7 separate regions of the Homo sapiens genome follow, and regions 1, 2, 3, 4, 6 and 7 are each reported to be linked to region 5. Evidence: microRNA targets listed by miRTarBase, many of them from high-throughput screens and not tested one by one. Region 5 holds a microRNA gene; each other region holds the end of a gene's coding sequence. Distances are between the middles of the regions.
What was found. Region 5 holds the annotated microRNA hsa-miR-4753-3p (UUCUCUUUCUUUAGCCUUGUGU, at 1,448-1,469, opposite strand). A microRNA usually pairs through its seed, bases 2 to 8, with sites in the 3' UTR of a target mRNA and lowers its output. Matches are read on the target gene's strand: a 7mer-m8 pairs with bases 2 to 8, a 7mer-A1 pairs with bases 2 to 7 and ends in A, and an 8mer does both.

Region 1 (3,000 bases), not on the chromosome of region 5:
GGAAACACATCGCAAGATCTTCCAAAGACATCATGTGTAACTCCTGCTTCAGAACAGCCGAAGAAAATAAAAGAAGACTATTTTGAAAAGCATCAGCAGGAACAGAAGCAGCAGCAACAACAGTCAGATCTGCCGGGCCACAGTTCATACCTACACGAAAGGCCAACAACAAGTTCGAGAGCAATTGAGAGTGATCTCAGTGATGACATCAGTGAAGGCACAGTACAGGCCGCTGTCGACACCATTTTAGAAATTATGAGAAAGAATTTGAAAATCAAAGGGGAAAAATAATGCCTTTAAAAATAATTTAGATAGTCATACTTTCCAACATTATCCTGTGTGATTATACTGTAGGATCCATTTTGGTCATCTGTCAAAGAGATGAGGAAATAAGGCTTTTAGACAGTTTGCAAACAAAATGACGAGAGAGATGTGGGACTAAATAATGATCGTTCAACTACTAGCCAAGGAGACATTCAGCAATTAATTAAATTTAAATTAGCTTTCAAAATGTTCCTTTGATTTTTGAGCCTGCAATATCTAATGTGTCTAAAATTGGGTCATTTTTCATGGATCTTTTTGTATACCAACGAATTAGCTCTTGCCATAGAACTTTTTCCATATAGTCTCTTCTATTGTAGATAATGTGGCTCATTTTGGTTGCTTTTATTTCTCATGAAACAATTTAACCTTTCAGGGAAGTGTCTCTTGTCTGTGTTGATCATAGTAACGGTTTTAGAAGGATAAACAGTTCTCCCTCCAACTATGTACTGTGCGCTTAAGTATATTCTTATGTTATTTCCTCTGATCACAATTTCTGCTACCTGGTCCTTAATTATTTTCCACAAGTCTTTCGAAATATGGTAATATTTTCTGAGGTTTTGTTTTTTACGCCCTCTGTGGTAAGATCATTATTTCATGACTCTGGTGCATTACTCTTTCTTTGTTTGGGGGTGGGGTGATGGGGGCAAAGACGCTCTGTCGCCCAGTCTGGACTGCAGTGGCCCAACCTCGGCTCACTGCAACATCTGCCTTCTGGGTTCAAGTGATTCTCGTGCCTCAGCCTCCCGACTAGCTGGGACTACAGGCATGTACAAGGACGCCCGGCTAAATTTTGTACTTTTAGTAGAGACAGGGTTTCACTATGTTGGCCAGGCTGGTCTCGAACTCCTGACCTAAAGTGATCTGCCCGCCTCGGCCTCCGAAAGTGTAGGGATTAAAGCGTGAGTCACTGGGCCAACCGCTGGTGCATTCTTATACTCTGAAATCAGCCCTGCACAAATATTTGAGAATGAGCGACTTTTTAAATGGGAAAAAAAAAAGGTAACATCAAGATTTCAGGATATATTATTGCTTATCTAGGTATCTAAAAAATCATATGGTCTGTAATATGTTTAAGGACCACATCATGTCTTACCTGGGTATCAAGAAATCCCATGTTTGCGCCTACTGTTAAATTCATCATCACCTATTGACTACAACCTGCAAAATCCCATGGTTAGGGACACCGTGATCACTTATTTAGAAATCCCCAAAATCTAATCATGTCTACTTGGTTAAAGCCCACATTATTTCTTTCCTCAATTCTTGCGAAATCCTATATTCATAAGAGCGGTTAAGATTGTCTTCATTATGTTGCTGGAATTTGCAAAAAAACCATGGTGACAACCATAATTAGACACACACCACCTGTTACCAAGATATGGGCACTACTCGTGGGCATTACCACGGCTTAGGCCAACATCATTCCCTACTGGGTATCTTCAAAAACTTATATTCACCAGAGCTTTAAGTGAGATACTTGTAAAATACCTTGGCACTTGGTTACAATTTGTGACACATCATCTCTCATGTGGATGCCTACAGAAGCCCAGGAGATCAACCAGATATAGAAATACCTACCAGACATGGAGACCTACAAATTAACCAAATTAAATGCCATTGCTAAGGACACATCATTTCTTTCCTGGGTGACTGAAAAACTGTTAAATACCTTGGGACTACCATTTCTAGTGACACATTATTACTTAACTGGTTATCTGCAAAATCCCGTGGTCACCACATGTTTAGACATTTTTAGAGACACCATCATATCTTCTCTGGCAGCTTGCAAAATCAGATGTGTAGAAGACACATGTGTAGAAGGACATGGGGTTTTCCACCAGCACTCCTACAAATAACCTTGATTTCCATCTTTTGGGGACACACCCACTCGACCTGGATACTTGCAGTAATCTCAGGTCGACCCTGATAGCAGAAAACCACCGTTTCTCGACTGTTCACCTGTAGACATCCTAGGGGCAGCACGGGGGCGGGGAATACAGTGATAAATACCTGACTCCCTGCAATCCCTCTACACTCACAGGTTTCAGCATACACTTTTGTTGAAACAGAAAATGGGAAAACCTGGCCAATCTGGGATTGGTAAGGACTCAATCATTTCTCAGCTGAGTACCTGTGAAAGAAATCACGGCGGGAAGACGTGTGGGGACATCTCATCAGTGAACCAGGTCCCTGGGACAGTCCCATGGTGCATGCTGTGGTTTATGCGTGCATCAGCAATACCTCAGCCAGACTCTCAAAAAAAGAAAAAAAACTATGAAAACACAGAAAAAAATGGTCATAAATCCAACAAATACATAAAGCCAGAGCTCTTAGCTGGACACTTATAAAATACTTTGGTTACGGTAGTGGCAGTTACTTACAATTTATGACATATCATCTCTCATGCGGATGCCTACAGAAGCCCATGAGATCTATCAGATTTAGAAAAACCTACCATACATGGAGACCTACAAATTACCCAGATTAAATGCCATTGCTAGGGACATACCATTTCTTTCCTGGGTAACTGCTGAATACCTTGGTACTACAATTTCTAGGAACACATTATTCCTTAATTGGATATCTGCAAAATCCCACGGTCACCACATTTTTAGAGACACAATCATCTCTTACCTGGTGATTTGCAAAATTCCTTGTTCAGTATCACGGTTAGGA
Region 2 (3,095 bases), not on the chromosome of region 5:
TACTTACCATGCTGAGTACGACTCCTTTTCAGCGCTTGTATTTTGTTCTTTATGGAATAATCTAAGGAAAAATGTTAAGATCAGACCCAAACCTGGGTGTGTCCCTGATTGGGTCTGGGGTTGTCTGTGTGTGTCTGAGCCCTAATTCTCTCTTGTTTTCTGGGTAGCACACAGGAGCTGGGGACCAAGGAGGAGGGCAGGCCCTTATGTCACCTGGCAGCTGCCTGGAAGATTTCAGAGCAGCACCATTCCTTGAATGCCAGGGCCGGCAGGGAACTTGCCACTTTTTCGCAAATAAGTATAGCTTCTGGCTCACAACGGTGAAAGCAGACTTGCAGTTTTCCTCTGCTCCAGCACCAGACACCTTAAAAGAAAGCCAGGCCCAACGCCAGAAAATCAGCCGGTGCCAGGTCTGCGTGAAGTATAGCTAGAGAATGCGAAATTCACCAACACGTGGCCAAGAGAAACTTCCTAGGGGGCTAAGACTTCCTAGACTGTGCTAAGAGATGTCATGGTGCTCATTTTGGACTCCCTTTCAGTGGTTCCTTCTGTTTTGTCGTGGTTATTCCCAGAGTCCTCTGGTTCCTTACACATTAAGCAAATGCTGCACAGATGGATTTGTTTGGACCTCCCAATCTAGGGAGCCTAGATACTCTTATTTTACTGAGGATGATCGAAGAACTGGCTTTACTTAAAAATATGCTAATTCTCAGAAAGGCAAGTAGATGATAAAGGCCAGATTACAAATTACATTACTGAAAACTTCATTCTTGGGTTAACAGTATCTCAAACAATTGAAGTCAATTACTCTATAATACAGTGGGCTTCTGGATGGATTTTATAGGAAAAAATAAACAGGTCAATGAATGAAACTAGAAAGCAGAGATTTTCAACATTTCAAAATGATTTCCTCTGTAATCTATTTTTCCATATACTTTAAATAATGGTAAAACCATGACGCAAAGAGAGATTTTTTTTTAAAGAAGAAAAAAAAAAATTCACACTGCCAGCGTTAACAGTTCCTTTCAAAGGAGAATGAATCATGATGGCAGGAAGGCCCACAGTCGCCGTATTCCAGAGATGCGACATTAGCATAAACACATCACAGATGAATATAAAACATTATGTTCTCTTCTGCATTTTTCAGAGAATAGAAATGCCTACTTTGGCAACCCTTTTGAAAAGTAGCAATTATGGAAAAAAAATATTCAATAAGAGATTAGGAGCCTAAAAGCTATTAGTGAATATTAAGGTAGTTATTCACAAAAATTGACTCCCCATTGCAGTGAACTTCCAGACAGACTGCTTTTCCCCAGTCGGGGTCCGGCGTGTCACAGGTGCGTGCGTGCTAATGGGACTGACGCTACATGGGGCTCACTCAGGCAGGCACGCGCTTCATACAAAGCATCTCACTCCCCTCCCCAGGAGAGCCTGCACAGCTTCTTGCACTCACAACGGACACTTTGCTCCACACACATAATGGCAGCTCACACAGGGACGTGACAGAGCTATCATTATGCACTTGGGAGAAAATTAAGGGCCGATTTAATTAAACTTAGGTAAGAAGATTCATTTAAGTCAGGGTTACCCCATCAGGAGGACATGGCACTATCTTTAAACGAAACAAAGACAATTTATAATTTGAATTTTATGCTCCCGTGGTTGGCTGTTACAGGAGCATCCCATTTTGCCAATTTTAAAGACATTCTTATATTTCATATCAGTCTTGTACCAAGGCAACAGTTTGACATTTGGCATTAGTATTTTCTAAAAAAGTTTAGAATGTGTGTCAATTTATAATGATTATTTTTTTCTGTAAAGCAAAAGATCCCTTTTTCTGTTTTGCTAGGAATTTGGTGATCTAATCCTAAATTTAAAAGATTTGTTGGAAAAAATTTTTAGGAAACTCACCTTCCTCATCTAAAAGAAAAAGGCATTTTAGAGAAAACTAAAGAAATTTCTCATGAGCGTGACACTCATTTTAGTGCTTTGTTTCCGTGCACTTAAAAATAATTGAGAAGAAAAACTCAATTAAAATTTTGTTTATAAGAAATGTTTTCCTTGCCAAACCTTGATTTGTAATGAGCTCTTATATGCAGAACACATTTCAAATGAGTTTTGCTATGGGCTGCCCCCAGGGTGGCAATTTATTTTAAGAGTATTTTCTGGTAAAAAGAAAAATGTGTATTTTAAGATGAAATATTTTCTTGATGTAGCAGAATATTTCCTAGTTCATTTGACCCATTTGATATTTTTTAAACCATGCTCTGGCATGTTGAATATTTTTGTGCACCTAAAACTTAAGCCAATTTCAATCTTATTTGTGATTACCTTTCTCCTTCCCAAAAAGCTTTATCTATTACCAAAAGTCAACCCTCCTAAAAGTTCAACCTGTTCATCTTGAACTTGGCCTGAGAACATTTTCTGGGAAGAGGTAAGGGTGACAAATGGAACATCAGAAACGTATCTTGCTTGCTAATTATTTTAAACACTTTAATGTTGGTATTAGAATATTATCTTCATAAGTTAATAAATAAGTAAAAAAAAAAAACCCACACAAAGACAGGCTAAATTATGTAGACAGTTTACTCCACAGTGAGCTTGGGAAGGTATCAGACTGTTCAAAATGTTAGTATTACAAGAGCTGTCTCTAAATGCAGCATTAACACTGCCCTCTAATTTTACAAAAGTATTTTAAAGGATCAAAAGGGCGGAAAAATAACTTCTTGGAATAGAAGATCCTGTTACCTTAAACCATTATTTTCTTCACCTGGTTATATATCAATGTGCCTTCAATTACCCTTTCTCTGTGGAGGTGATGAACAAAGCTTTTAAGTTGTTCTCCTAACCCATTATTGGAGATGATCCTTATCAAACCCTTCTCTCCCTGCCTCCCCACCAACCTTGTAGACTGGAACGTGCCTAGATTGCCCTAATGGGAACTGTTCTGTTCTGTGCCCGTGCTGGAAATCTGGGATGCTTCCTTCTGGGTTCTGATTCTCAGTGAGTGGAGCCCATTCATCCAGGCAGGTTTCCATGCTATGAGTGGCCCTTTCGTTCTGCTCTCACACTCCCCACATTGAAAGCTGAGTCAT
Region 3 (3,095 bases), not on the chromosome of region 5:
TTCCATTCACTAGAGGATCGCATCGTCAAAAGATTTTTGCTTGGAATAAGCATGACAGAAAGATTTAACCTAAGTGTTAGACAACAAGTGATGAAAACATCTCAATTGGGTTCAGATCACGAAAACACGGAAGAAGTCTCTATGAGAAGAGCTCCTTTAATGTGGGAATTGATACACAAGAAGGTACTTAGTCCACAAGATCAGGATGTACAAGATAACCCCAGAGGGCGCTCAGCCAAGCTTAGAGCAGCTATCAAATTATAAGTTATCATCATCTTATTCTTCAAATTTTTTTCTCACAATTTCTCTAATCTTTACTCATGTTATGTCCCTGAATGTCTTGGTATAGGTTTAAGTGTGGGACAGTCTGAAAATTGATAGCATTTAGCATTTCTTTTTTCTCAAAAAGAAACTGTAGGAAATACATGACAGAGAAAGTTACACTCAGGGAGCAGCAGCACCTCCAGACTGGAAAAATATGTTAATCTTTGCATCATATTGGACTCTTGAAGGCAATCCTTCCTCTGGCCAGGAAATTTTTTAAAAAATAATACTGTGTTGTGTTTATCTAAATACGTAAACTCAAGCTACCAAAGAGAAAGATGTTGTAATCATATCTGCATGTCCTAAATTTTGAATTTAGATATTCCAATTTGCATCAGTCTTTCTGTGGCTCAAATAATGATGATTATGGAATGAATTTTAATGTCCCTACTTGTGAATAATTAGCTTTCTCAAATGTAGGCTTTTTACAAATTTTAAATTTTAAAATATTAGTTTAAATGTGTGTTATACTGATAAAATTTCATCTTTCAAATTATAGTCTATTATTTTAAAGGGATTTTTCAGTATGATATGGGCCATTTTGTTCATCTATCGCAAAGTAAAAATGTAAAATCCTTACAGAGAATTGTTTCACAAAACTTATATTTCATGTCAATTGTATTTATTTTAATAATAGCTCACAATGCCTTTAGTAAGTAATAAAGTCTCTTATTAGAATCTTGTATTTTTTAATTGAGCTAATCAAAATAATTCAGCCAAGTCTATTTGAAATAGAAAACTGTCTATTTAATATAGTAAAATCAATGCTCCCTTAATGTTGTTACAAAGATATGGTAACTGTAATATGGGTAAAAGTTTATTCAAGAAAAGAGTACTTGGTAGAAGATTCTTTAACAAATTGAGGAGATTGATTCATAATTCACATGTCAATTTTTTATAGTAATATGTACTTCTAATTTATTATTTATACTTAAATTGTGACCTGAAAGATGAGTTGGAGATAATTAGTCAAAGGGCACATGGAGTATGGAAGGGGGCATGTTGATTAACCATACATAGAAATAAATATTCTCTTAGTTATCCTTGAAATCATATTTATACTATTAATTTGCTCAGTGCACTTTTTTCAAATACAGAAAAAAGATTCTCCATTATAGTTACAAATTTTAGGTTGGTGAATCCAAGTGAATGAAATATCAGCATAACTATGTGGGCAAAATAGATAGAATTAAATGCATGAATTTTCCTCAGACTTATTTTATCTGCCTCTGTAATATTTAACTTTAGTACCCAGGCTTGTTCACTACTTCTGCTTTACAGGCTTTATTTAAATCTGAACAATCCTACAGGGAAATCAGAATTAGGAAAAAAATCTGGAGAACAATATGGTTGAAATAGAAACAAGAGAATGCACCTAGGTTAATTCCCTGAATCCTACTTGAACATTGTATAAATTTCTCTTTGCATATAATACATATTTGTGAATGAGACATATTCCCAAAAAATTCTTATCTCTGTATGTGATTGGAAAAGAAAAGATCACATTTGTATATTCAACAATCTTTCACCTATTTCATAAGTCATTTTTTCACCCTGTATAGTATGGGAATTATTTTTTATGTTAAATAGAAACTGAATGTACTGGGTTGAATGGTGTCCTCTCCAAAATTCATGTACTTCCTGGAGCCTCAGTATGTGACCTTATTTGGAAATACTGTGGTTGTGGTTGTAAGTAGCTAAGATGAGGTCATACTGGAGCAGGGCAGGCCCTTAATCCAATATGACTGGTGTTCCTTATAAGAGAAGATAGGGCGGGCATGGTGGCTCACGCCTGTAATCCCAGCACTGTGGGAGGCCAAGCCAGGCAAATCGCTTGAGGCTGAGGAGTTCAAGACCAGCCTGGCCAACATGGCGAAAACCCATCTCTACTAAAAATAAAATTAGCCATGCGTGGTGCTTGTAATGTCAGCTACCCAGGAGTCTGAGGCACAAGAATCACTCGAACCTGGGAGGTGGAGGTTGCGAGATCACACCACTGCACTCCAGTGTGAGCAACAGAACGAGACTCTGTCTCAAAAAAAAAAAAAAAAAGGAAGAAAGAGAAGATAGAGACACAGGGGAGAATGCCACATGAAGCTGGAGGCAGAGATTGGAGTGATACATTGTGGGAACCCTCAGAAGATAGGAAAAAAGCATGGAATAGATTCTCCCTCAGAGTTCCAGTAGTTGCCAACCCTGCTAACATGGTTTTGCACATCTAGCATCCAGAACAGTGAGAATGTATTTCTGCTGTTTTAAGGTACCCAGTTCATGGTAATTTGTTACAGCAATCCTAGGAAGCTAATACTCTGACAGAAAAAAATCTTGGATAATATGCATGAGAAAAATCCTTCAATAAACACAAAATTGGTTTCAAAATGTTTTCATGTAAAAATAAATTAACTTTTCTGTAATTAGATTGTGTTTTATAGTAATTCTTGCCTGCTTCTTAGTCTTTGTTGTAGGATGCATAATAAAATACATGAATGAGTTTTAAATGGTTAGCTTTGGAGAATGGTTTTGGGAAGTTCCTACAGTACACAGAAATAAAAGCTAATGTTACTATGAATGCGCATTACTTTTCTAATAAAATGTTTCTGAATCTCTGTCTTGACTGCCTTCTATGAATCATTTTAACATAGTATCAATGTCATTGTGTAGTACATCAGTTCTTAACAGTTTTTAGTTCATTACTTAAATAAAATTTAATAACTACAATTTTTAGATAATATCCCTATTTTTATTTTATTTTTAAAATTGTATATTAATTA
Region 4 (3,095 bases), not on the chromosome of region 5:
ACCCTTAGTAACCTGTGTGTCTGCCCCTCCACAGAACTGTCAGACCTTCAGCAGCCTCAGCTGCCTGAGCGCAGGGACAGAGGACTGCGGTCCCCAGAGCCCCTTCGCCCGCCACGTCAGCAACACCAGGGCCTGGACCGCCCTGCTCTCAGCCTCCGGCCCAGGGGGCAGGACCCCCGCTGGGACCCCGGTCCCTGAGCCTCTTCCCCCTTCCTTCGACGACCACCTCGCCTGCCAGGAGGACCTGTCCTGTGAGGAGTCAGACAGCTGCGCCCTGGACGAGGATTGTGGCAGGAGAGCGGAGCCGGCTGCAGCCTGGCGGGACCGCGGGGCCCCTGGGAACAGCCTCTGCTCCCTGGACGGCGAGTTGGACATTGAGCAGATAGAGAAGAACTGAGGGGGTGTGGGCCCAGGCAGGGCTGGGGTGTGCTGGCATCGACAGCCCCCACTCTGGGCACTAGGTGGGCCCTTGAAGGGGAGCCCAACTCGTGGGCCTGATGAAAGCTTCCTGAGTGGTGTCGGGTCCCAGAGAGGGAGCCCACCTGCTGCCTGGGGGAGAGCCTGGCCTGGCCGCGTCATACAGCGGGTGTGTCAGCCTCTCACCGGCTCCCCGAGCGTGGCAGCCACCAGGTCCACAGAACTACTGCAGCCCAGAGGACAGCTTTGAAGTTTGCGTCTTTTCTGCCTCTTTCCCTGTGGGATGTTGGGCAGTCTCTGTTGTCCCCGGCAGAGCTGGGCACCGCTCTGTATCCCCCTGGTGGTGGGGGCTGTCAGGGAGGGCCTGGGGTGGGGGCCAGGGGCCATCTGCTATGTCAGGGCCCTTCTTGGCCTCACTCAGGTTCACTTCTGGGGAGTCGGCCCCGCAGCTTCTTTCACTCAGTTTTACTCCGTGCCTTCTCTCCCAGGTCTCCCTGCTTCAGGCTTGGGAAGGTTCGGGAGATGCTTCCTTCTGTAACACCAGAACCATTTGGCCTTAATTCCAATGTGAGAGACAGAATCCCTGGGGTGCTGGACTGGCCCTCCAGAGGGTAAGCCATGTCCGGAGTCTCGGGCCCAAGGAACGATTTGGAGGGTGCTTGTTAGGGCCTCCCGTGTTGGGTAGAAATTTGGTGGATCTGTTGGCTGAAAAGACGGACTTGCTTGCCTCTCCTACAGCATGGAGAGGCTGACCCCATGGCTCTGCCACCGTTGGGGCAGGGTTAGCAGATGGCAGCCCTTCTCTGTGGCTGACAGGTCACTGAGTGATAAGCATGGTTGGTTCCGGTGAGTGTAGGGATGGCACGATACCAGGGCAGCCTCTTGAAAACGGCCTCGGGAGACGGGAGCTGCGAGCAGGTGGGCAGATGAGGGCCCTATGCGCACTCAGGGGTGAAGGGCGTCCGCTGGCCACTCTGCAGGGGCCCCTGCAGGATTCCAGGCACCTCCCGTTTGTCCTTGAGGACTGCTGGCTGTAACCAGGGCACATCACCCACCTCAAGACAAGCCCACGCCCTTGTCAGCTTAGGGGGAGCCCAGTCCTGAGGGCTGCATCTCTGTTGTAGGCCCAGCCACCGGCACAAAGCTGGATTCATGCTCCCTGCCCCTACCCCACCCTGGCTCCTCACCCTGGGGCATCCGAGGAGCCTAGCCCCCTGAGGGTTTGCTCTCCTCTCAAGGTTTGTAGCTCCTCTCCGGCTGCCTTGCAGACACCACCACATGGGCTCTGCTCTATGGGAATCTGGCTTTTAGCGAATGTGGCGTCTTCTGCAAACAATAGCAATTGGGCTGGCTTAGGAGCAAGTGGCTCATTTTCCCATAAGGCTAAAAATAACTGGTGCGCTCCCTTGTGTTGGCTGACACGCGCGTTCAAAGCACTTTTGTAGTCACTTTGCTTTTGCTCGTCTTCATGGACGAGTGAACGCCTCGCTTCTGCAGGTTGAGTCCAGATGCTTCTCACCTTCTTTCTCCTCAAGAAAGATGCTTTTTGGGAAACGTTGTTTAAATCTTATTTTTTTACTACATCAAAAGGATGGTGGTTCAAGTTCCCAATATGTGGGTGGCACTTCTTAAAAATCAGCTTTAAGGAGCTGGCAGAAAGCCCCCAGCCCCACAGCCCTGAGAGATGGTGTTGCTAGCTCAGGTGGCTGACACATGGGGTATGCCGGGCACTGGGCAGGTCCCAGAGCCGGGGAACCAGCTCACCTCTGGTTGCTGTAGCTCCTGCCGGAGGCATGTCTACTTGTGATCCCGGACAGCCGAACCCAAGAGCTGGTGGCTCTGAGCAGACAGAGACATCTTGGCCTGTCCCTGCCTGGGGGTCATGGAGACCATGTCTTCTTAGAGCAAATGTGGAGGCGGCCAGGGCAGTTGTTGGGTGAATGTGGAGAGCACATGGCCATGTCTTGCCCCCGGAGTACCACTGGGCGTGGGGGGTCCTGGCACCACATGCCCGGTGTGGCCGAGGGCACACAGCCTCTATAGCAGGCCTTCCTGTGGAAGGCAGAGGCAGTGAGGGAGGTGGACGGTGCCAGCTGAGGCTGAGGCATGCAGCAGCCCCCAGCTACCTTTGCTTAGGGCTGGGGTGGGAGGCACATGGTGACAGGTATATGTCGTGGGACTGGGGTGTGGGTGACCTGCCCTCAAACCTTGCCTGCCACCTCCCCATTCAGGCCTGGTGGCAGGAAGGGACAAGCTGTGGAGCTGGCTGAGTCACAGCCACCTCCCCACCTCCCCGCAAGCTGGTCCCATCGACCAGCAAGCCCAGCCCCAGGGCGCTTAGGGAGAAATGACCCAGCCTCCTCAGACCCCGCCTGCCTGTCCTGTGCCCACCACGCAGCAGTCAGGGGAGAAAATGGTGGCTATCCCTTCTGCTTAGAGAAAGAAATGGCCTTTAGCTGGTTTCATGTTTGTGTTTTGACTGGAGGGAGTAGACCCTATCTATAAGGTGCCACCCCATCATCCAAGCTGCCACACTGCCCGGAGCAGCCTGTTCCTGCACTCCACCCTGCTGGCCCCAGGACTTCTGATCTCAGTCCTCTGGGAGGGAGGTTCGCCTAGGAGGTGCCCCCCACATTGGTGTCCCCATGGGCAGCAGGCAGACAGCTCACCCCCACCAG
Region 5 (3,095 bases):
TGAAATTAGGGGGATTCATGAACATATCTAACCACTAAGAATCCTCCACCCCACTCTCTGTTCTTCAACTAGATCCTAGAACACTGGAAACCATTCTCTTACCACCCTCCAGTCAAGAGATTGGAACTCTTTTCTCTGGAAGCCAACTAGTCTAAGAGAAAAAGACCTAAAGACTTCATATTATGAATTCCCTAGGACATGGCCAACCAGATCACCCGATAGTGAAACTCAAGGTCAACAAGTGCCAACCATATGCTTGCAATTTCCAAATCAGTTTAGTCTTTCCTTCATAATCATAAGACAGCCAGGAAAAAAAATTCTTAATAGGGAAGAGCTCAAAACAACAACACAGAAAAAAGCAAATTAGAGGTAACTGAAAAAACCAAAAATTATAAAATCCTTTGAAAGATCAAAATCCGAAAGGTAAGGTATTGCATCCATCTATAAGAACAGAGTGGTACAAAACACACAGAAAACAGAGCTCTTGAAAAATTAAACTAGTTTAATTTAAAAATATTCATTGAAAGGCTGGGCGCAGTGGCTCACGCCTATAATCCCAGCACTGTGGGAGGCTGAGGCAGGTGGATCACAAGGTCAGGAGTTCAAGACCAGCCTGGCCAAGATGGTGAAACCCCATCTCTACTAAAAATACAAAAAATTAGCTGGGTGCGGTGGCAGGCGCCTGTAATACCAGCTACTCGGGAGGCTGAGGCAGGAGAATCGCTTGAACTTGGAGGGCAGAGATTGCAGTGAGCCGAGATCATGCCACTGCACTCCAGCCTAGGCAACAGAGTGAGACTCAGTCTCAAAAAAAAAAAAAAAAAAAAAAAAATCATTGAAAACTTAAACATTACAGCAAAAAGTCAACAAAAGGATTAAAAGACAAAGCAGATAAAATTTCAAAGAAATAAAAAGACAAAAAAATTAATAAAAAGCAAGAAATTAAAAGGTGAGCATATTAGAGTATATTACAGAAGGTATAATATCAAATAATGGCTGGCCAAAGAAAGATAACAGCCAAGTGCAGTGTCATGCACCTATACCCCAGCTACCCAACTACTTGGGAGGCTGAGGCAGGAGGACTGCTTGAGCCCAGAAGTGTGAGAACAGCCTGGGCTGAACATAGTGAAACACAGTCTCAATTAAAGAAAAAAAAAAATTTGGCAGGGCTGGGACAGTAGCTCATGCCTGTAATCCTAGCACTTTGGGAGGCTGAGACAGGAAAATCGCTTGAGCTCAGAAGTTTGAGACCAGCCTGGGCAATATAGTAACACCTCATCTCAAAAATAGTAACAATGAACAAAAATTAAAAAGGAGAGAACAGTAAAATGCAGGAGAGGAAATCATCAAGAAAATCATTCAAAAAAACTGCCTAGAACAGAAAGACAGAAGTTGCTAGAATGAAAGAGTCTAGCAAGTAGGCATCACAGGGGATGAAAATATATCTACACAAGGCTAAAGAAAGAGAACAGCCAAGTGTACTGTGGATATATCTGTTCTCTTCCTTTGGCCTTGTGTAGATATATTTCAGAGTTAAATTTCTGGATACGAAAAACAAAGATTCAAGATTCCTAGCAGGGCATGGTGGCTCATGCCAGTAATCCCAGCACTTTGGGAGGCTGAGGTGAGTGGATCACTTGAGGTCAGCAGTTCGAGACCAGCCTGGCCAAAATGGCAAAACCCCATCTCTACTAAAAATAGAAAAACTAGCCAGGCGTGGTGGCAGGCCCCTGCAATCCCACCTACTCGGGAGGCTGAGGCAGGAGAAACACTTGAACCCAGGAGGCAGAGGCTGCAGTAAGCCAAAATTGTGCCACTGCACTCCAGCTTGGCCAACAGAGTGAGATTCCATCTCAAAAAAAGAAAAGAAAAAAAAAAGATTCCAGAGACAGAAAAGCAAAAAATAAAGAATAAAACAAGTCACATACAAAGAATCAGGAATTGGAAGAGCTCTGGACTTCACAAAAGCAATACTGGAAGCAAAAAAACAATTCAACACTGCCAATAAAATACTGAAGGAAAAACTTCCAATCCAGCCAAACTATGAATAGAATAAAGATATTTGCAAAAATAAATACAGATATTTAAATGCAGCCAATCTCTAAAAATTCCATCTCATGCACTTGTTCTTTAGAAGCTACTAGAGAATGTGCTCCACCAAAATGAAAGTATGGGGGTGGGGAGGAACCTGAGATGCCAAAAACAAAGAAATCCAAGAACTACATTAAAGGAGATCCCTAGAATGGGATCTCCCTAGGAAAATAGCTGTGCAACAGATATAGAGGGAAACCAGTCCAGACTACAGCAGTGTTATTTCCAAAGAAAGTCATACTGCAGGCTATTATCATTAAGCTACCTGCTACCGCCTCTCTGTAGTCTTTGAATGCCTGAGTGACCCAGACTGGATTTTAAAATCTGTATTTATCTTGTTTCAACTATGTGTCAATGAAATTCCAGCTCTCCCTTCCATGTCTTATGTGCCACTACCTAGATCAGCTAATGACATCATTTTATCCAGCAGAAACATTCTGACCTACTTGTGAAAAATAGGGGTAAATCACCATAAGCCTAGAATGAGAATATATATAGAGTAGTCTGCTACTACGACTGAGCACACTCCCACATAACATCCACTGCGAATGTGTCACATATTCTTTTTATTTTATTTTTTTTAAGATGGAGTTTCGCTGTTGCTACCCAGGCTAGAGTGCAATGGTGTGATCTTGACTCACTGCAACCTCTGCCTCCTGGGTTCAAGCGATTCTCCTGCCTCAGCCTCCCAAGTAGCTGGGATTACAGGCACCCACCACCACACCCGGCAAAGTTTTTGTATTTTTTTTTTTAGTAGAGACAGGGTTTCACCATGTTGGCCAGGCTGGTCTCAAACTCCTGACCTCAGGTAATCTGCCCGCCTTGGCCTCCAAAAGTGCTGGGATTACAGGAGTGAGCTACTATGCCCAGCCAAATGTGTCAGATATTCTAACTGTAGTGGACCCCTAGGTTTATCAGAACTGGCTTATGACCTGTCCAACTGAATTCTCTAGAGGGGCTTTTGTAAACTCTCAGAGAAGCTAAATCTGAAATCAGAGTATGAC
Region 6 (3,086 bases), not on the chromosome of region 5:
TCATCTCTTTGAAAGGGACTGAAGCCTCAATGTGCATTCTATAGAGGGTCATTTAGCAAAATGACATCAGACGCTGTGGCGTGCTCCGCGCATCGTGGCTTTAAAAAATGATTATTCTGTGCCACTAAATGGTATAGATGTACCAACACAGACTAGATTTTTAACTCTGGAAGACGTGCTGGCTACCCGTTCTTTGTTGGGTTTTGTAAGATGCATTTTGCGCTCGGCTTTCCGCTTGGCTGGAGACACGCAAACTGAATCTGCAAGTAATGCAGGCGGCGAGCGAGGAGCCGGCGAGAGGCCGAGTAGGATTCTAATCACGTCCTTGCTAACTGACAAGAAGCAAGCCAGCCAAAAACCCACCAATTTCTTTTTGAATCTTGGTAATTGGGTACTTTTACACGCAGCTCACGCTATTCGGATAGAGTCACAAGCTTAGATAGACCAGTGTCTCAAAGCGACCACACATTTCTAATGCGTTTTTTTAATTAAAATCTCAATCCGTTTGGAATGAATTCATATCATATATGCCTCTTACTTAAAATCAATATAGCAAGTAGGTGTATTGGAGAAAATGAGTAGAAAATGTATGCCTGGAAGTGAGGGAAGAGAAACATACTCACCACTAGGAGCTTGTATGTGGAGAGGGATGCCTCTCCAACCCCCATCCCAGAACCACCATCCTCCCCACCCAGACCTAGTCTCCATTATTTCATCCAGCCCCACCATAGTTTCACAGGGAGAAACTCAGAATGGAGTTGAGAATTGGAAAATGGTGGAGGACCCTCTCTTTCTGGTTCACTTTTTTGGGGGATTTTAAATTTTGATCAAAGGATAATGCAGCCATCTATTCTTTTTGGTGGGCATGTACATTTGCAGCATAGGATAGAAAGAAAACATATATACATGTACATACACACACACACACACACACACACAAACACACACTCATTCATCATAAAGAAACCATTTGGATGGGACTGGCCATAGCACTTATCATTGTCATTTCTGCCACTTAGCATGTTTTGCAACATTTTCTTCTCCATCCACCTCTTCCCTTTGACATTTTCATAAAACTGGACCAGGGGCATCAGAGTCAAAGAAAGCTTAGAGTCAGCTGATTATTTTCATTTTAAAAAAAGGAAAAAGTTTTATTACGAAACTAGTTTGTATAAAACAGGGTTATACATATTTTTGTAAGTTTGTAATAAAACAGTAAGAAAAAAAAAGGCAGTAATAGAAATCTCCAAAAGGCAACCTATCAAAACCAACTGGCTGCCACTTTGAGTTTGGACAGTAGCTGCATAAACTTTGTTCTTCTTGAACAGTATTTAATAACATCATTAATACATTAACAACATTTCTATAAAGTAAGACACATTGGTGCTGAAGTACAACTGGTGGCCTCTTGATCTCACCTATGAGGAGAGTTCTTTACAAAACCACATAGGGAAAATTGCAGTTGTAAGGTGAACTACACATCTAAAATATGCAGAGGTAATAGCATTACATGTTAAAGTATCAAGATATACACATTTTAAACCATTTGTACAAAACTTCTATAAATTTTTCTCTCTCTTTCTCTCTTATGTACAAAAATATCTTAATATATCCCCGAACTGGTTAGGATAGATACAAATAGATTTTTTATAATAAAAAATTCACAAAAGATTGGAAGCATTCTATAATGAAAATGGTAGAAAAGACAGTGTGAGGGAAGCCATGGGGTTTGGGAATCGGGCCCTGGAGGAGAAGCAGAGTTTCAAAGGGCTGAGAATAGCATAGTTTCACTGTAAACCAATGTCTACAGCTTATTGGGGTGGGGGCTACTGAGACGAAAGACACCAACTCGTTTCTAGAGGGCTAAGAACTGCACTTTAAGAAAGGGCGAGGAGGTGAAGGGACCCGAGCAAGAACTTTCAGCTGTGCGTGTTAGAGGTGATGGGAGTTACTATAACGCGTGTGCTGCTCCCTTCTGCCAGGAGCCCACTGCTTTTGCACACAAGCTGCATTTTGCGCATTGACTCAGGTCCCAGTTGCTCTTCATATCTCCGTGAATGATTGGAGTGCAAAGATACTGTTCTGAGCGCTTCCCGTTTTCTGAAAGCCATGTCTCTCAGGCATGCCTCGCTTAGTTGGCGATGGGGTTGGTTGACTGTTTTCGTTTTTTTCTTCTTCTCTTTTCTTCTTCTTCTTCTTTTTTTTTTCTTTTCCTTTTCTCCCCCTCCCAACGCCACTGACAAGAAAGCACTAAAGATGCAGGTTGTGCGATCACCCTATAACATAAGGAAAAGAACAGGAGAGGTTAATTTGAACGTGTAGGCTAGTGGTAGAGGGAGATGGAGGTCTGGGGAAAGAGTCTGTCAGGTAGACATCTCTTTTAACATGTCCCAGTATTCGGTTCACCAGTATCTCTGCACCTCACTACTACCCTTCACTCCTTGGAGACCTGGGCAAGGCCATTTTCAGAGGCCAGTGCTGAAACTAACAAACTAGGACTTGAAATCGACCAACTTTCACAAATTCTTTAAATAAAAATCCCCTTATCTCCTTGGAGACATCCCCACTTCCACAGACACTCAGAGGGAGGACGAAGGCAAGAATACCCCCCTGCCCACCCCAAAATGCAACCTACCTGCTTCCAAAGTCCATTCGCACCAGGGCCTGACCAGGCCGAGCCCCTCAGAACCAGTTGGTGAAGTCGAGAAGCTCCTGCTCCTCGGGGCTGAGCGGGTCGTAAGAGCCCTCGTCCGACGAGTAGGATGAGACCGGCGAGCCGGCCATGGAGTTCAAGTCGTTGGAGTAGTTGGGGGAGATGGTGGGCGACAGGACGCCTGCCTGGAAGGCGGCGCTCACCGCGTCATGCTCGTCCAGCAGCTGCTGCAGCGCGCGGATGTACTCGACCGCCGAGCGCAGTGTCTCCACCTTACTCATCTTCTTGTTGGCCGCGCCGTTGGGGACGTGCTCCCGAAGGGTGGCAAAGCCCAGGTTGACCAACTTGACGCGGTTGCGCTCGCGCTCGTTGCGGCGCGCCACGGCGGCCGGCTGCTGCTGCGGCAGGCTGTAGCCAAAGCCGCTGAAGTTGA
Region 7 (3,095 bases), 140 Mb from region 5:
ACCTTGATCAGTTAAAACTTAGCCCTCAAGTTGAATACGAAGCTCAGTCTACTCCACCCAAACTGTTGTTGGGTAGAATATACATGATGGGGAAGAAATTGAATGAATATTGACAAGACACACAGTGTCTACAACAGCTAGTAAAATACTTTACATGTTTTTTTGTTGTTTTGTTTTTTGGGTTTTTTTTGAGATGGTGTCTTGCTCTGTCACCCAGGCTGGAGTGCAATGGTGCAATCTTGGCTCACTGCAATCTCTGCCTCCCGAGTTCAAGCAATTCTTCTGCCTCATCCTTCCGAGTAGCTGGGACTACAGGTGCATGCCACCATGCCTGGCAAACTTTTTGGGTTTTTTTGTATTTTTAGTAGAGATGGGGGTTTCACCATGCTGGCCAGGTTGGTCTCAAACTCCTGACCTCATGATCTGCCTGCCTTGGCCTCCCAATACATGTTTTACTCAAAGTATCCTTTTTTGCTTCACAGATATATTCCATGAAGACAAAATAGAAGATGAACTTCTATTCACCGTTTCTGGAATTCTAGCCGCCATGATGGTCTGGTGGTGACTGATAACTAGTTTTATTCCAAGACATACCTTTACCTCTTTAAGTTTCAATCTCCCATCTCCCAGTCCTTCAGTCCCCAACTGCAGAGGATGACCTCCCCAGATAGAGGAGAATCATTACTCCAACAAGAATAACCAAGTCTTTGTATCCCTAGTACAAGACATAGTATTTTTATTCGAAAATGAATGTTTAAGTATTAAATTGAAACTTGAATGAATATTCAAGAAAATATAATGATCTCTACTTTTTCTGGATGATTTCCAGCCATCATATCAGTTTGCCAAAAAAATTGAGAAAGTTATGATTTTGACCTCCCAACCTAAACTCTAAATTCTAAAGATCAGTAAACAATTAGGTCAATAAATACATACAATTTAAGATGAAGCCCTTTGGAAGTCTAGTCCAAAACAGGAAAATCTCAGAACTTTCTGGACTCAAGGAAATGCTTTAAATGGAATCTGTAGTTTGTTTGCAGGAGAGACAATTTCTAGAATTTAGATTGCTTTTCAAAATGTTTATCAGGTAGGCAAGTTAGCAGTTGAGGCGGAACACAGACAACTTGGGGAGCTTTACTGGAAGGCCAAGAAAATACTCTTGGACACTGGAGGAAATGACAGCTACTAAAGCCCAATCATGGAAAAGGACCAGAAAGCAGCCCACTGGAATGGGGAGCTTAGTGGGCAAGGAGGTAGGGATATAATTTCTCTTCTTGGCTCCACCAGTAATTAGCTCTGTGGCCCAGTCACCTAAACTTTCTGGACTTCAGTTCAGGTTGTATGGCAGTAGGCCATAGAATTGGCTACTGCCATACAATCTCTATGGGAAAGGACTGCAAAAACTAAATTTTATCTCTGTATGGGCAAAGGCTACTGTCATCCTGTTGTTGGTCTGGGGCCACTCTGACAATTTTTTTTAACCTCATTTGATTGTGTAAGGGTCTAACCACAACAAAAAATCATAGTGTAATAGAATTAATCAAGTTCAGCAAGGTCACAGGCTAGATCAATATACAGAAAATCAATTGTATTTTTCTGTTCAGAAAACTCCAAAAATGAAATAAAGAAAATTGTGTTCACAATATCACCAAAGAGAATTAAATACTTAGGAATAAATTTAACAAAATAAGTATAAGACTTGTATAACGAAAACTATAAAACATTCAAGAGGGCTGGGCATGGTGGCTCATGCCTTTAGTTCTAGCACTTTGGAGGCAGAGGCAGGAGGACTGCTTGAGCCCAGGAGTTCAAGACCAGCCTGGGCAACAAAGTGAGACCCTGTCTCCACAAAAAATAAAAATAAAAATAAATTGAAGATGGCCGAATAGGAACAGCTCCAGTCTACAGCTCCCAGCAGGATGGACACAGAAGATGGGTGATTTCTGCATTTTCAACTAAAGTACCTGGTTCGTCTCACTGGGACTGGCTGGACAGTGGGTGTAGCCCACAGAGGGTTAGCCGAAGCAAGGTGGGGCATCGCCTCACCTGGGAAGCGCCAAGGGGTCGGGGGATTTCCCTTTCCTAGCCAAGGGAAGCCGTGAGTGACTATACCTGGAGGAGGGGTACACTCCTGCCCAAATACTGCTCTTTTCCCACAGTCTTCGCAACTGGCAGACCACGAAATCCCCTCCCATGCCTGGTTCAGTGGGTCCCACGCCCACAGAGCCTTGCTCACTGCTAGCGCCAGCAGTCTGAAATCGACCTGGGACGTGGGAGCTTGGCGGGGTAGAGGTGTCCGCCATTGCTGAGGCTTGAGTAGGCGGTTCTATGCTCACAGTGTAAACAAAGCAGCAGGGAAGCTCAAACTGGGCAGAGCCCACCACAGCTCAGCAAGGCCTACTGTCTCTGTAGATTCCACCTCCAGGGGCAGGGCATATCTGAACAAAAGGCAGCAGACAGCTTCTCCAGACTTAAACGTCCCTGCCTGACAGCTCTGAAGAGAGCAGTGGTTCTCCCAGCACCGCGTTCAAGCTCCGATAATAGACAGACTGCCTCCTCAAGTGGGTCCCTGACCCCCGTGTAGCCTGACTGGGAGACATCTCCCAGTAGGCGCCGAAAGACACCTCAGAGAGGTAGATGCCCCACTGGAACGAAGCTTCCACAGTAAGGATCAGGCAGCAATATTTGCTGTTCTGCAGCCTCCACTGGTGACACCCAGGCAAACAGGGTCTGGAGTGGACCTCCAGCAAACTCCAACAGACCTGCAGCTAAGGGGCCTGTCTATTAGAAGGAAAACTAACAGAAAGGAATAGCATCAACATCAAAAAAAGGACATCTACACCAAAACCCCATCCATAGGACACCAACATCAGAGACCAAAGGTAGGTAAAACCACAAAGATGGGGAGAAACCAGACCAGAAAGGCTGAAAATTCCAAAAACCAGAATGCCTCTTCTCCTCCAAAGGAACACAACTCCTTGCCAGCAAGGGAACAAAACTGGACAGAGAATGAGTTTGACAAGTTGACAGAAGTAGGCTTCAGAAGGTCGGTAATAACAAACTTCTCCAAGCTAAAGGAGCATGTTCTAATGCGT

Region 1: the mRNA of ATXN3L is a reported target of hsa-miR-4753-3p. Seed matches in the 3' UTR shown: 7mer-m8 at 376-382.
Region 2: miRTarBase lists COL4A4 as a target of hsa-miR-4753-3p. Seed matches in the 3' UTR shown: 7mer-A1 at 460-466 and 7mer-m8 at 962-968.
Region 3: miRTarBase lists METTL15 as a target of hsa-miR-4753-3p. Seed matches in the 3' UTR shown: 8mer at 593-600, 7mer-A1 at 1,688-1,694, 7mer-A1 at 2,084-2,090 and 8mer at 2,382-2,389.
Region 4: miRTarBase lists FAM53B as a target of hsa-miR-4753-3p. The part of its 3' UTR that is shown has no 7-base or 8-base seed match.
Region 6: the mRNA of ASCL1 is a reported target of hsa-miR-4753-3p. Seed matches in the 3' UTR shown: 8mer at 2,176-2,183 and 7mer-m8 at 1,575-1,581.
Region 7: miRTarBase lists RPAP2 as a target of hsa-miR-4753-3p. Seed matches in the 3' UTR shown: 8mer at 1,651-1,658.

The regions. Positions count from the first base shown.
Region 1 is chrX:13,316,158-13,319,157 of GRCh38, reverse strand. ATXN3L (ataxin 3 like) reads left to right here. Exons shown (of 1, transcript NM_001135995.2): 1 at 1-511. The coding sequence ends at 291. GS1-600G8.3 (unknown transcript) reads right to left here. Exons shown (of 17, transcript NR_046087.1): 14 at 2,456-2,596; 15 at 322-370; 16 at 1-150. Among named protein-coding and RNA genes, the nearest start is that of ATXN3L, 2.4 kb to the left of the region's middle.
Region 2 is chr2:227,004,661-227,007,755 of GRCh38, reverse strand. COL4A4 (collagen type IV alpha 4 chain) reads left to right here. Exons shown (of 48, transcript NM_000092.5): 48 at 168-3,095. The coding sequence ends at 431. Among named protein-coding and RNA genes, the nearest start is that of COL4A4, 160 kb to the left of the region's middle.
Region 3 is chr11:28,330,578-28,333,672 of GRCh38, forward strand. It overlaps METTL15 (methyltransferase 15, mitochondrial 12S rRNA N4-cytidine), which reads left to right. Exons shown (of 7, transcript NM_001113528.2): 7 at 1-2,930. The coding sequence ends at 264. Among named protein-coding and RNA genes, the nearest start is that of MIR8068, 150 kb to the right of the region's middle.
Region 4 is chr10:124,620,544-124,623,638 of GRCh38, reverse strand. FAM53B (family with sequence similarity 53 member B) reads left to right here. Exons shown (of 5, transcript NM_014661.4): 5 at 35-3,095. The coding sequence ends at 397. Among named protein-coding and RNA genes, the nearest start is that of FAM53B-AS1, 82 kb to the left of the region's middle. RefSeq lists an enhancer at 1,448-1,948.
Region 5 is chr1:235,188,593-235,191,687 of GRCh38, forward strand. It overlaps MIR4753 (microRNA 4753), which reads right to left and starts at 1,524; the gene lies at 1,442-1,524. The region is part of intron 19 of ARID4B (AT-rich interaction domain 4B); the gene reads right to left.
Region 6 is chr12:102,958,552-102,961,637 of GRCh38, reverse strand. ASCL1 (achaete-scute family bHLH transcription factor 1) reads right to left here. Exons shown (of 2, transcript NM_004316.4): 1 at 2,636-3,086; 2 at 1,125-2,276. The coding sequence ends at 2,683. Among named protein-coding and RNA genes, the nearest start is that of ASCL1, 2.4 kb to the right of the region's middle. RefSeq lists enhancers at 1-1,088, 2,434-2,965, 2,966-3,086.
Region 7 is chr1:92,386,529-92,389,623 of GRCh38, forward strand. RPAP2 (RNA polymerase II associated protein 2) reads left to right here. Exons shown (of 13, transcript NM_024813.3): 13 at 483-3,095. The coding sequence ends at 483. Among named protein-coding and RNA genes, the nearest start is that of RPAP2, 89 kb to the left of the region's middle.